4 linked regions of the Homo sapiens genome follow. The protein of the gene in region 3 interacts with the protein of the main gene of each other region in a pairwise test. Each region holds a gene or a part of one and is shown on either strand. Other genes may lie near its edges.

Evidence for each region. The genes of interacting proteins can lie anywhere in the genome.
Region 1: the proteins of GLP1R (region 3) and NRGN interact in a protein complementation assay, tested with the Homo sapiens proteins (one study listed by BioGRID).
Region 2: the proteins of GLP1R (region 3) and SYNGR4 interact in a protein complementation assay, tested with the Homo sapiens proteins (one study listed by BioGRID).
Region 4: the proteins of GLP1R (region 3) and TMEM176B interact in a protein complementation assay, tested with the Homo sapiens proteins (one large-scale study listed by BioGRID).

The regions. Positions count from the first base shown.
Region 1 is NC_000011.10:124,742,942-124,745,325, reverse strand, and holds part of NRGN (neurogranin), read right to left. Parts: intron 1,065-2,384; exon of another isoform or gene 431-1,064; intron 1-430.
Region 2 is NC_000019.10:48,370,867-48,374,366, reverse strand, and holds part of SYNGR4 (synaptogyrin-4), read right to left. Parts: intron 851-3,500; coding exon 613-850; intron 1-612.
Region 3 is NC_000006.12:39,051,781-39,055,280, forward strand, and holds part of GLP1R (glucagon-like peptide 1 receptor precursor), read left to right. Parts: intron 1-3,500.
Region 4 is NC_000007.14:150,794,083-150,797,364, reverse strand, and holds part of TMEM176B (transmembrane protein 176B), read left to right. Parts: intron 1-790; coding exon of another isoform or gene 791-795; coding exon 796-999; intron 1,000-3,282. UniProt on the Homo sapiens protein: May play a role in the process of maturation of dendritic cells. Required for the development of cerebellar granule cells.

The DNA.
Region 1 (2,384 bases), on a different chromosome or scaffold from region 3:
ACAGGCGAAGAAGGTTCAGGGCCAGGTGGACAGTCATGTCTCAATTCAGGAAAGAGAAGTGCAGGCAGGATTGGGTGCGGGAGAGCCAGGCCCATCACCAGCACCGAGTTAGGGGTCTGCAGAGCTGATTGGAGGGTGGGTTTGGAGGGGCAAGGAAAACAGCAGCAGGCACTCCTGGAGTGGCCGCCTGTCCCCCTGCTCTCAGAGGGTACCTCCAGCTCAGAAGGACCCAGTCTGAGTCCAGGGTTTTCCGTGGAGAGGATGGAGAAGCCTCAGTCCGCCAGCCCTCTCCCCAGTAGAAATGCAGAAAGCTCACAGCTGGAATTAGGGAGAGGATGGGGATACTAGTCAGTGAGCCAGCCTCCCCCGACCTAAGGCTAGAGGCCCAGAGATTGTTTTCCCATTGACTCTTCATTTTCCACTGCCCAAGGATGAACTCAAACACAGGAGATAGGAGATGATTTGGATGAAGTGATAAAGAAAAGGCTTCACTCCAAGAAAAAAAAGAAAAAGAAAAGAAAATGAAAAGACCTGCAGGAGCAAGAAGCCCTTTCCAGGGTGTGCTTATGAGGAAGAAGGGAATTATGGTGATAGCTACCACTTAAGCACTTACCTTGTTCCAGGTGCAATAACGGTGTTTTACAGGCATTATTTTATTTAGTCCCCCAAAATAAAGCTATTACGTACCTTTTTATCATTACCCCTAATAAAACTAATGATTAGACTGTTTAAAAACCTACCTGGGTCATACGGACAGTTACCAGTGGACCCAAGATTCAAACCTTTGTATTTCAGAGTCCAGAATATATATTTTTACCCCTACTTTGTAGGATAAGAAAATGCAGCCCAGTCAACCAGCCAAGGTCTACCATTTGCTATAGGTGTGTGGCCTTCGGCAAGTTATCTAATCTTTTCCTATCTCAGCTCCTTCCTCTAAAATATCAGGATAATGGTATCCACCTCTATGGGTCGTGGGGAAGAATAAACAGCATGATATGCATAAAGTCTCTTGCACAACCTAGCTGCTCAATAAATGGTAGCTTTTATGCTTGTCTTAAAAATAACATTAAGTTAATGTGAAATAGTCATTTTTGTAGGCCAAAAGTGGTCATATAATAACAATTTCATATGGTTCAACCTAATAATAATCAGGCCCACCTCTATGCCCCAAACTAGGTTTCTGCTTCTCTGACAGCCTGCCCTGGCTGAAAGTAGAAGGCGTGAGGGGATTGATGGTATAGATTGCAGAGGAAAGGCTATGGAACGGAGAGGAATTCAGCCTCTGAGCCCTTTTGTTGCATTAACATTACTTGCAGTATTAGTGTGGGTCAGGATGGGGATGGTTACTATGAAGTTAGAAGGACATTTCTCCTTTGATCTGGCTCACTGGCTTCTAGGAATTTGCCTCCTTCTTTTTTTTTTTCTTTTCATGAAGTCTTCCACTGCTTTGACTATCTTTTTCTTCTAGGACACGAGATGACCAAGGTTTCACATAATAATGGTAATTCAGTTCTGCACATTAGCTCTCCCTGCCATCATCCATCCGGTTCATAGAAGTGGACAGGATATGAGGAAGGCTTCAGTGATCACTGTCCTAGCCAGATTCTGCCCCAGGACCACAAGCTTAAACTCCAGATGCCCAAGCCCCGGCTTATAAATGGTTCCCCTCGCCATGTTTCCCAAGGTTAGCCTCATTTCCTGGGCTTCACATTCTTCAATTCGTGCTCAAGATGCCCATAATCGATTTAAACACAGTTAAAAGGAGTTACATTTTGGTAGAAGAGTCAAAAAAACAGAAAGAAAAAAAGAGTTACAAAAAGGCAGGTATGGTTGTGGAAAGGCCAAACACAGGTCTAGGGTGCTCAGAAAAGACTCCTTTGGAATGTTTTATTCTTAGAGCTCAAGTCTTTCTTGGGATATCCTCAGGGAACAGTGAGGCTTCTTCTCAAGAGGGTGACAACCATAAAAAAGCATTCCTGACCTACCTTTCCTCCTTGGCCTCGCAGCTGTGGAGGAGTGGGAAGGTTGAGTGGAGGAAGGGATATCTGCCTCCAACCACGCTAGACCCGACCTGCTGTCACCGCCCGCCCCAGCTGGATCCAGAATGGAAACCTGGAATAGCAGGCAAAGCCACCCCCGACACTCCATGTTCCTCCCCAGAACCAGCTCCCTCTCCTACCAGCTGAATTTTCAGGACAGAGCTGCCAGGTGGCCAGTCCACAGGTGGAAGTGGAAGGAGATTGAAAGGACCTGGGAAGAGGTTCATTGGTCATGGTGCCTGGCTGGTGCTTTCCAAAGCCAAGGTTGCTGGTGTGTGCCTGACAGTTCCATAGGAAGTAGGGACTTCTGGGAGGGAGGAGGAGGTGGAAGGTGCCCTGGTCAGC
Region 2 (3,500 bases), on a different chromosome or scaffold from region 3:
TGGCTCACGCCTGTAATCCCAGCACTTTGGGAGGCAGAGGTGGGTGGATCACCAGGTCAGGAGATCGAGACCATCCTGGCTAACACACTGAAACCCCGTCTCTACTAAAATACAAAAAATAATTAGCCGGGTGTGGTGGTGTGCGCCTGTAATCCCAGCTACTCAGGAGGCTGAGACAGGAGAATCGCTTGAACCCGGGAGGCGGAGGTTGCAGTGAGCCGAGACTGTGCCAGTGCACTCCAGCCTGGCGACAGAGTGAGACTCCATCTCAAAAAAAAAAAAAAAAAAAAGAGAGATTTTCTGTAAATGAGGGAAGCAAATGCAAAGAAGGCACGGGGCAGAAGGGAGGCTGCTATAATTTGTCTGGGGGTCAGAAGAGGTGACCCTTACCCAGGGTCTGAAGGATAAAAATAATTCCCCAGGAGGAGACAGCAGGTGCCAGGCACAGTGAGAAGCTCTGGGCCACTTGTGGTCAGATGCCTCCTACTGGGAGGACAGTCAGGGTGGAGGCCGGCTAGGTGGTGAAGGGTTGTGCCCGGGAGGCCCTGGGGAGCCAGGAGGGCTGTGAGCGGGAGGAGGGGCAGCTCTGGGTTGGGGGTCCTGGGGGCTCACCAGCCAGGATGAAGTCCAGGAGCTGGAAGGCTGTCTTGAAGCGGGTGCCGGCAATGCGGGTCTCCTGTGTGTCCAGGACGAGGAAGGCCAGGCAGCTGAGGAAGGCCAGGAAGCCGGCTCCCACGGCAAAGCTGCAGGCCACGCTGTTGCTGTTGAGAATGCAGTGGAGCTGCGGAGACTCCATCTTGTTCTGGTAGCCGTCGGTCAGCAGGGAGGAGAAGACGATCAGGGAGAAGACCTGTGGATTTCCAGGGGCCAGAGAAGAGCTCAGTCTCTCCCTGAAGCTGCTCCTCCTTCCTCCCTGGTGCTGTCGGTCTTTCCGTATACCCAGTCACTGGTCCGTCTGGACCTCTCCCTCTTTGACATTGTCACAGTGTCAGAGCCCTCAGCTTCCTGCCCCTCGTCCCCTCTGCTCCATCCTGGCTCAGGCCTCGTCTGCTCTCCTTGGCCCTTGCCCCAGCCTCCTCCCAGCCTCCCCACCTCCAGTCTTCCCCACCTCAGCACATCTCCACCATGGCCCCAGGGGAGTCTTTCCACACCCTGCCCCTCCCTGCCACAGCCCCTCATGGCTCCCCAGTGCCTCAGGACTGAGTCCCAGCCCTGAAGCCTGGCCTTGGAGGCCCTGCAGAGTCTCCGCTTCCCTCACTCTTCCAATTTCATCTCTCCTCACTCACCCCTGCCTCCCCCACACTCTCCTTCTGCCACCAAACCCAGGTACCCATATAAAATGCCTGGCACAGTGCCCGGGACATGGGAAGAGCTGAATCAGTGTTTGCAGTCGTGATTATTCTCTCTGCCTCTCAGCTCTTCCCTCTGGGGTGGTTCTGAGGACTAAACGAGAGGAGGCACTTAGAGCCCTTCCCTCTGCGACTTCTGTCTCTTCCCTCCTGGCCTCACTAATTCCTATTAATTTCTTAGGTTCATTTGCAAGATAGTCCAAGCATACAGAAAAATACGAAGAGAAACATAAGAAACACCCAGTGTCACCTGGCCAAACTAACACATATTAACATTTTGCCTTGTTTTTTGGCTTCGGGATTTTGTTTTAGACAAATACTACGACACTGATCTGGTAACCCTGTCCCTCTCGTCTGTTTTTTTTTTTGGAGACAGAGTCTGGCTGTCACCCAGGCTGGAGTGCAGTGGCGCCATCTCGGCTCACTGCAGGCTCCGGCCCCCGGGGTTCACGCCATTCTCCTGCCTCAGCCTCCCGAGTAGCTGGGACTACAGGCACCCGCCACCATGCCTGGCTATTTTTTTTTTTTGTATTTTTAGTAGAGACGGGGTTTCACCATGCCAGCCACGATGGTCTCGATCACCTGACCTCGTGATCCGCCTGCCTTGGCCTCCCAAAGTGCTGGGATTACAGGCGTGAGCCACCACGCCCGGCCATGCCTGTCTTCTATGTGTATTTGCTAAAAAAACCACGGAAACACTCTATAAACACTCACCCAGGTCATCCTTACAGCCACCCTAGGACACGGGCACTACTCACAGCCCTGTGTTTCAGATAATGGAACTGGGGCACAGAGAGGATAAGGAGTTGGCCGAATCCAATTAGCTGGCCAGTGGCTGGGCGAGGTGGCTCATGACTGTAATTCCAGCACTTTGGGAGGTTGAGATGGGAGGATCGTGTCAGGCCAGGAGTTTGAGACCAGCCTGGGCAACAGAGCGAGACCCAGTCTCTACAAAAATATTAAAAACAAAAATAGCTGGGTGTGGTGGTGCATACTTGTAGTCCCAGCTACTTGGGAGGCTGAGGCAGGAGGATCACTTGAGCCCAGGAGGTTGAGGCTGCAGTGAGCCATGATCATGCCACTGCACTCCAGCCGAGGCGAGAGAGCAAGACTCTGTCTCAAAACAAACAAACAAAAGGCCAAGCACAGTGGCTCACATCTGTAATCCCAACACTTGGGAGGCCAAGGTGGGAGGAATCGCTTGAGCTCAGGAGACCAGCCTGGGCAACAGAGTGATACCTAGTATCTACCAAAACTTCTTAAAAAAAAAAAATTAGCTCAGTGTGGTGGCATGCACCCGTAGTCCCAAGTACTTGGGGGGCTGAGGTAGGAGGATCACTTGAGACCCAGAAGTCAAGGCTGCAGTAAGCCCTGATTGTGCCACTGCACTCCAGGCTGGGTGACACAGTGAGGCCCTGTCTCAAAAAAAAAAAAAAAAATCAGCTGGTCAGTGTCAGAGCCTGGATTTGAACAGAAGTAGCCTGGCTTCTGAGTCTGCCCTTGACCTCTTGCTCTTCTTCCTCACACTGGACCACGCGCCTTGAGGGCGGGGGCTCCTATCAACGAAATTCGGTGAAAATTTGAAGCCCCAGTGATTTGTCCCAGATGGTCACAATGCAGCAGGGCAGGTCTGTGCCAGACAAAGACGAGCTGGTGTGTAGATGGGGTGGTGGGGAGGAGGCTGGGGCCTGGGGTGGGGGAGAGAGTCAAGGTGGAAGCCAGATTGAGGGCTGGATTTCAGGTGAGTTCTGAACTGGACCTTAAAGAACAAGGAGTTTCTCAGACAGACAAGAGGAGGAAGGGCATTCCCGGCAGGGTGGATGGCATGTGGAAAAGCCAGATGCTGCAGAGCGGGCAGTTTCAGAGATAAGAGAGAAACTCACTGGAGGGTTCTGGTGTGAGATGAGGCTGGAAAAGTGGGTGGGAGCCAGGCTCTAAGAGGCCCGGAACACCAGGGCCAGGAGCCGGACTTGGGGAGCCATGGAAAGCATTCAATATTATGCATGGGAGGATTCTGTGCAGGGGACAGCTGGGGTCAGCCTTGGGGTTAGAGAAGCCCTCTGGGGTCACGTGGCTGATGGATCGGAGGTGGGCAAGACAAGAGGCCAACATACCTGAGAGGAGGCGGGGAGGCCCAGGTGAGAAAGGCTG
Region 3 (3,500 bases):
AATGAGTCCCTGTGTGTGCAACATCTCAGCATGCAACTGTACATCTGACAGTGTCTATGTTTTTGTGACCCTGCATATGATACTGTGTCTGTGGGAGGGTCTGTGTGTGTGTGTGGGGGGGGGGGCATCTTGGTGTGTGAATGGGTGTCAACTAGTGTGTGTCTATATGTGCAGGAGAGATAGTGTGCATGTGAGAGTGTCTGTGTGTTCCTCTGTGTGTGTGTGTTGGGGACAGTGTCTCAGCATGCGACTGTGTACCTGGCAGTCTGTGAGTGATTGTGTGTGGTGGGAGAGAGTCTGTGTCAGTGTCTCAGTATTGGGAATGTGCTTGGGGGCGTGTGTGATGATGCGTGTGACCGTGTGTCCACGTGGGGGTTTTTGTGACTGTAAGAACATGTGTGTAGTATTCCTTTTCCTGTCCTTTCGTTCAGATATCTAAAGCCCTTAGGGAAAAAAAATGGATTGTAAGCTCTGAGCTTTTGAAAAAAAAGAAAGAAAGAAAGAAAAACAAGGGGCGGTCAAAGAGACAGGGGTCTGTTGATGGAAGGGGTGATTTGACTTCTGGGAGGTGACACAGAGGAAGGAGGTTGGGGTCCTGGGAGGAGATGCCAGGGAACCTGAAGGGCTGGACTTAGTTGGGGGACTCCAGAAATTTGAGTTGGAATCCCTCCTTCCTCCTTCTGAGAGGCCTTCCTGCATGTCTCCCACCTCTGTGCCACCTCCTTCCCGTCACCAAAATGGTCCCCAGAGAAAGAAAGAATCTGATACACTTATTCGCACTGAGAAATAGGAGTGCCTTTCAGATTGGCAGCCAGTGTTTGGAGAGGGAGCCCCTTCCTGGGGTGTTGGAAAGCCCACCACCCCGGGGGCTTCCACTCCACCTGCTTCCTTCTCTGCTGTCCTTCCTTCCAACGCTGCCTGCTTGTACAGGGCTTGAGAAGTCACAAAGATTTTCACCTGCTTTATCTTGTTGGATCTGTGCAGTTTGAGAAGAATGATATGCCCATTTTATGGACGGCAGAACTGGCAACTGATGAGGAAACTGAGGTCCTAAAAGATAAATCGTGTCCCACAGTCCTGCATTAACAGAGCTGGGATTTAGACCAAGAACTTATAAATCGCTGTCCAGTGCTCCTTCCTGTAGACCACACCACTCCCTCCTGGTGTCCTCTTTCCTGTCTCCTGCTTCCTCCAAAAACTCCTGAATCTGAGGGATGCCCCTTCCTTCTTGTAACCTCCAACCCAGGTGTCGTCTCCACGTGCCTTCATCCACCTCAGAGAGATCCCATGAAGCCTGTCAAGTCTTGATTCTAGAAACTGCCATCCTGCCCTTCCCATGGCCCTTTAGACCCCCTCTGACCGCTGCTTTGCTCTCCTGGTCAGCTCTGCTGCCTTGTGAGGGACAGGGACATCTGGATTGCATCCTTCCCGCTACCCAGAACCCACAGCCCCACCTTGTCAGGCTTGCAGCAGGGACTTATGTTGTGGGAGGATGAAATGGAGGAGTGGGGGACACTGGTGGGCAGGGCCTTGCCCCTCCTCACAGGGCATGGGGTCCAAAGCTTCCTCCCTGCTTCACTTTGCCATTGGCTGTGGTTACTGCTGGAAGATCTCACAAATTAAGCAGAATGATTGGTCATTGGACATGAACATATATTCATTTCCTCTTTCTGGGAATATGTTGATCCTAGAAGTGAGGAAGGGGTGGGGCCCCAGTCCCCAGGAAGCCTGGTCACTCCCTCCCACTCTGCCCTTTCCACTAAACAGTAGAAATCATGGGGATTGCTGCCATTGACTGAGCCTTCTCCATGTGCCCACCATCCTAAGCATTAACTCAGTCCCCACAGCCATCCCATGGGGGAGGGGCTGCTGTTCCCTTTTGCACAAGTGTAAGCTGAGCCTAAAACATACAACTCTTGCACTCGGTTGCAAACCTAATATCTGGGTGACCCAGGTCCAGGCCCAGATCTGAGCCCAAGGCCAGGGTTGTTCAGCCTCCACTATGTTACCTGGGCACCCAGGCCCTATGGCACTGGGTGGCCCTAGCCTCATTTACTCAGTCTTTCCCCAGACCAGAACCTCCCATCTGTCCCAGGGCCCACCACCACTCTCTCCCTGCCCCAAAAAATCCTCCTGATAACAGTCCACAGCTCTCCTCTGCTCTCCGGAGCACTGATGTCCCCACCTTTGTACCTTTTCCCTGCTGTGCCCTCCTGCTGAAGTGCCCGCCCTCCTCCTTGCTAGCCCAGTCTGCCTCCAACCCCCTTCACCCCAGCCCCACCTCACAGTCCCCAATCCCTCAGGCCTCTTGAGTCTGCACTGAACCCTGCCCCAACCACTCCCTGAACACTTTCACCCACTGCCTTCCCTGTTATGTCACTTGTCCTGTAAAGCATTGACCCCCGAGTAGCCTGAAGACTCTCTCAGGCAGGGCTCCTGCAGTCACCTTTATACTCCCTGCATTCCCCTCCACCCACGACCACCCAGAACCTGGCACAGTTATGGTTTCTGTAAATACGAGGCGTGGGAGAGGCCAGAAGTCTGGGTAGTTTGCACTGTGTGTGCCTGCAGGGGTGGGATGAAGGCTCGAAGGTATTTAGAAGCCCTGATCTGGTGTAGGGAGGGGACAAGATACTCTTACTGTCAGGAATCCCTCACCTAAGGGGGAGCCACAGCCCCATCCTCAGGAAGCTCCAGTCTGAGGGGAGACACAGCCCCGTCCTCAGGGAGCCCCAGTCTGAATATAGTTTTATGTCCACAGCTCTGCTCAGAGTAGGTGACAGCGCTGCCCTGGGGTGCAGGAGGCCAGATTGGCCTTCATGGCGCTGTCGTTAACCCCTCCCCCCGCCTCTGGGAAGAACTGGCTTCCATACCTCTCTGCCTGCCCCAGACACACCTTCTGCCCCAGTTCCCAGCAGTGACCTTGTGTGTGGTCTGCTTTCATTCTAGAAACAGAAACCAAGGGGGATTTCTCCGTCTCTCTGCCCTCCACCCCCAGCAGCTGCTGCATTTAGGGGCAGCATGGAAGAGCCCTTTACCCGGAGAAGAGGGAAGAAGTGAGAAGGGAAACGGGGCGGTGGGGGTTGATCCACCAGGACTTGCTCTGATGAAAACTGTGCCACCTCCTCAGCTGTGGCTAATATCATGGACAACACCTTTGCAGCTGTTATGTTTGATTTCTTGTTCTTTTTTTCCCCAAGCAAATACAGTTGACCTTTGCCCTCAGAAGAGCTCTGTCCTTCAGGGTAGCCCCTGCCGCCTTGGCACACTTATGCCAAGGATGCTGCTGGGGCTTAAAGTGAGCTGGGCCCTTCCATGGGGCCTCCGAGGCAGCAAGGGGTGAGCAAGGCAACCCAAGTCTCTCAGGGAGGTGTGTGATAAGCCAGCTAGAACCCGAGACTGGATCCAGCATGTGCCCAGCACGCTACAAGGCAAGGGGGCAAGCTTCTAAAAAGAAGCTATTTTAATTTCAGCACACGTGGACATTTTTGTGATTTCAA
Region 4 (3,282 bases), on a different chromosome or scaffold from region 3:
CTCTCTCTGTTATTTAGGTTGACACTTTTTATGGACTCATGTAGGATTATTCTAAAAACATATGATCGTGTGATCACAGCATCATGCAAATCAGTGTGTATAGTATGCTGCTATTTGTGGGAAAAGGGGGCAGAAATACTTTTTCACACTTTTGTATGCAAAAATGTCATGGTAGGATTTATAAGAGACTGATAATATTACTTTGCATCTGCAAGGCAAATAGGTGGTTGAGGGAAAAAGATGAGCGATAAGGTTTTAAAGGTATATATACCCTTTTGTATCTCTTAACTTTTTTATGTGTAAAATCACTATTGATTTCCAGTGCCATTGATATCTGCACTGGGAAGCCCCTTTGAATTTTGACAAAGACACTGTTTTTTGTTTGTTTGTTTGTTTGTTTTTGTTTTTTTTGAGATGGAGTCTCACTCTGTTGCCCAGGCTGGAGTGCAGTGGCAAGATCTGAGCTCACTGCAACCTCAGCCTCCCAGGTTGAAGTGATTCTCCTGCCTCAGCCTCCTGAGTAGCTGGGACTACAGGTGCACACCACCGTGCGGATTTTTGTATTTTTAGTAGAGAGGGAGTTTTGCCACATTGGCCAGGCTGGTCTTGAACTCCTGACCTCAGGTAATCCACCCACCTCAGCCTCCCAAAGCACTGGGATTACAGGCGTGAGCTATTGTGCCCAGCTGGGATCTTGACAAAGACACTATTTCTCTCCTTTCACCTGTGCTGTGTATTTTTCCCTCGCCTAGTTCCCAGACCTCACTGCTATATGTCTTCTCCCTGGCAGGCAGGATGACGCAAAACACGGTGATTGTGAATGGAGTTGCTATGGCCTCTAGGCCATCCCAGCCCACCCACGTCAACGTCCACATCCACCAGGAGTCAGCTTTGACACAACTGCTGAAAGCTGGAGGTTCTCTGAAGAAGTTTCTTTTTCACCCTGGGGACACTGTGCCTTCCACAGCCAGGATTGGTTATGAGCAGCTGGCTCTAGGGGTAAGACTGGGGTGGTGCGGGGTTGGGGGGCACGTTAACGAGGTGATGAGGTCAATTAAAATATAGAGCCAAATCTTCAAAATTAAAACGTTTTATTTGGGAGGAGAGAATTGCAATTTGGGGCATACACACAGACCAGGTGGTCTCCAGTATGTCTTTAGAACAAAGAGAAGGTTAGAGGCTTATAAAAAGGAGAAATGTTACATATTGCCCTTCATGAAAGATCATAGGTTTTGGGGAGCTGGTGAGCTCTGATGGGTGAGCGATGGCATGAGTAAAACTAATCCTAGAGTTGTAGCAAGGTCAGAAGCTGTAGATAAAGCTGGTTTCAGGTTGCAGCAGGCAGCTTCAGCAGCCTGATTTGTAGAGAATTACATTTTGGGAGCAACATTTTGTGCCCCGAGTGCTTTTTGCCCCTGGCCTCTCGACTCTGTTTTAGTTGAGTGTGACAAGAATGACCCCATTTGTAGGCTCAGCTTTCACAGTGGAAACTCTCCTTCTTCAATAGGATGCAAAAGAGGAAAGTGGGTTGAATTCCCATGAGAGGGACATGAGAAATCACTATTTATATCTCATTCTGTGTAGGAAAAAGTTGTAAGTGTCCCCACAGAAATTTGGATGGAAAGGAAGAATCGACCTCCTCTTTGGCACAGAGGAGTCGGTCCCAGCCAGAGGTAGGGCAACAGGAAGAACAGTCTAGAGGCTGTTAATTCGGTTTTATTGACCCCACATGGACTGAAAGCCTACAGGTGCAAGGCAATGTGTTCAGCACTTCAGGCCAAGCTACAGAGAGAATCCCTGGGCTATATCTAAAAGTACTCAGTGACCATCAGAAGGAACAGCAGCTACACTAATGACTGGAACTAAAGGTAGATCAGGTGAGGGAGAAGCACATCTGACATCCTTGAGGGCAGGAGAACCCTGAATGGAGAAGGAATAGGTATAGACAGAGGTGGAAGATGGACAAAAAAGAATTCCAGGTTAAAGAATGGCAGGAGCAAAGGCAAAGAGGCCAGAAGGCATAGGGCAAGTTCTATAATGGTTAAGAGTAAAGGGAATGGGCTTCATGAATGGGTGATTTGGGCCCATATTGCTGAGAGCCTTGAACGACCAGGTGAGGAGTCTGTCCTGAATCAGCTTTGACAGTGAGAACGCTGTCAATGGATTCTGAGCAGGAACCTGCCTCAGAGTCAGGAGGCATCCAGGTGAGAAGGATCGAGGATCTGCACTCACATAATCATAGCAGAAATGGTGAGGAGACAAAGGAGTCCCTGTCCTTCACAGACCTCCATGGCATGGGAGTGAAGGGGTTTGGGGCATAAGGAAAGAGAGGCATTCACAGCATGCAGAGAGGGTTGAAGTGTGGGTGACCAGGAGATCGGAGCCCTGAAAGTCAGGAGGAGCAGCCATTCGAGAGGTGTGTGTGTGTGTGTGTGTGTGTGTGTGTGTGTGTGTGTGGTAGTAGGGGATTTGGATGTGACAAATCCGAGATGCTGGTAGGATGTGGAGGTGGTGACAGTTGGGTTTTCCAGGAAGAAGAGGAGTTCTCTTCTGAGTCGGAGTTGGGTGTGTGAACGGCTTATTGGGGTATGACACCTATGAAATGAAAAGAGGGGGAGCAGGATTGAGCAGGAGGAACCATCAGGCTGCAATGCAGACTCTGCCAGGCCAGTGGGGGAGCTCCCAGGCAAAGGTTGCCCACTGCAGGAGTTCCACACTGGGTGGAGATGGCCCTTGAGCCACTGTCTTGCTTAATCATTGGCTGGGGGGCCCTCCTCAGTGTGTGTCTTCAGCTTGAAAAATTAGGGTGACCCTGAAGGAGCTGACAACTGCAGGCTGTCAGCAATCAAACAAGCCCTTTCTTGAAGGAGGTCTCAGCGGCACTTCTTTGTGTCTGCCACAGAGCCCTCAAGAGTGTGTGTTTGGATCTGAAGAGAAAGGATAGGCCAGAAGCTCAGGTCAGGCTGGGGGTTTGGATGGGACAATGGGACCTCTGAAGGAGAATGGGGGGGGAAAAGTGGGAATCTTCAGGTGGGATGAGAAAGTGTTGAAGTTGGGAAAAATTGATGAAGGATAAATAGCCAAGCCTATGAGAAGGGTGAGGGGAGACCCAGGCCAGTGCTGCTTCATGGATTTTAAGGGGACAGAATCTTCCAGAATCAGAGCTGCAGAGAGGTCAAGGCAGAGGAAAAGGAGAGGAGAGCCACCTAGGTAGGAGCCAGGCAGCTGGTCCCAGGGCAGCCGGGGCATGTGGACTCACGGGAAGGGGTCTGGTTTCTCATC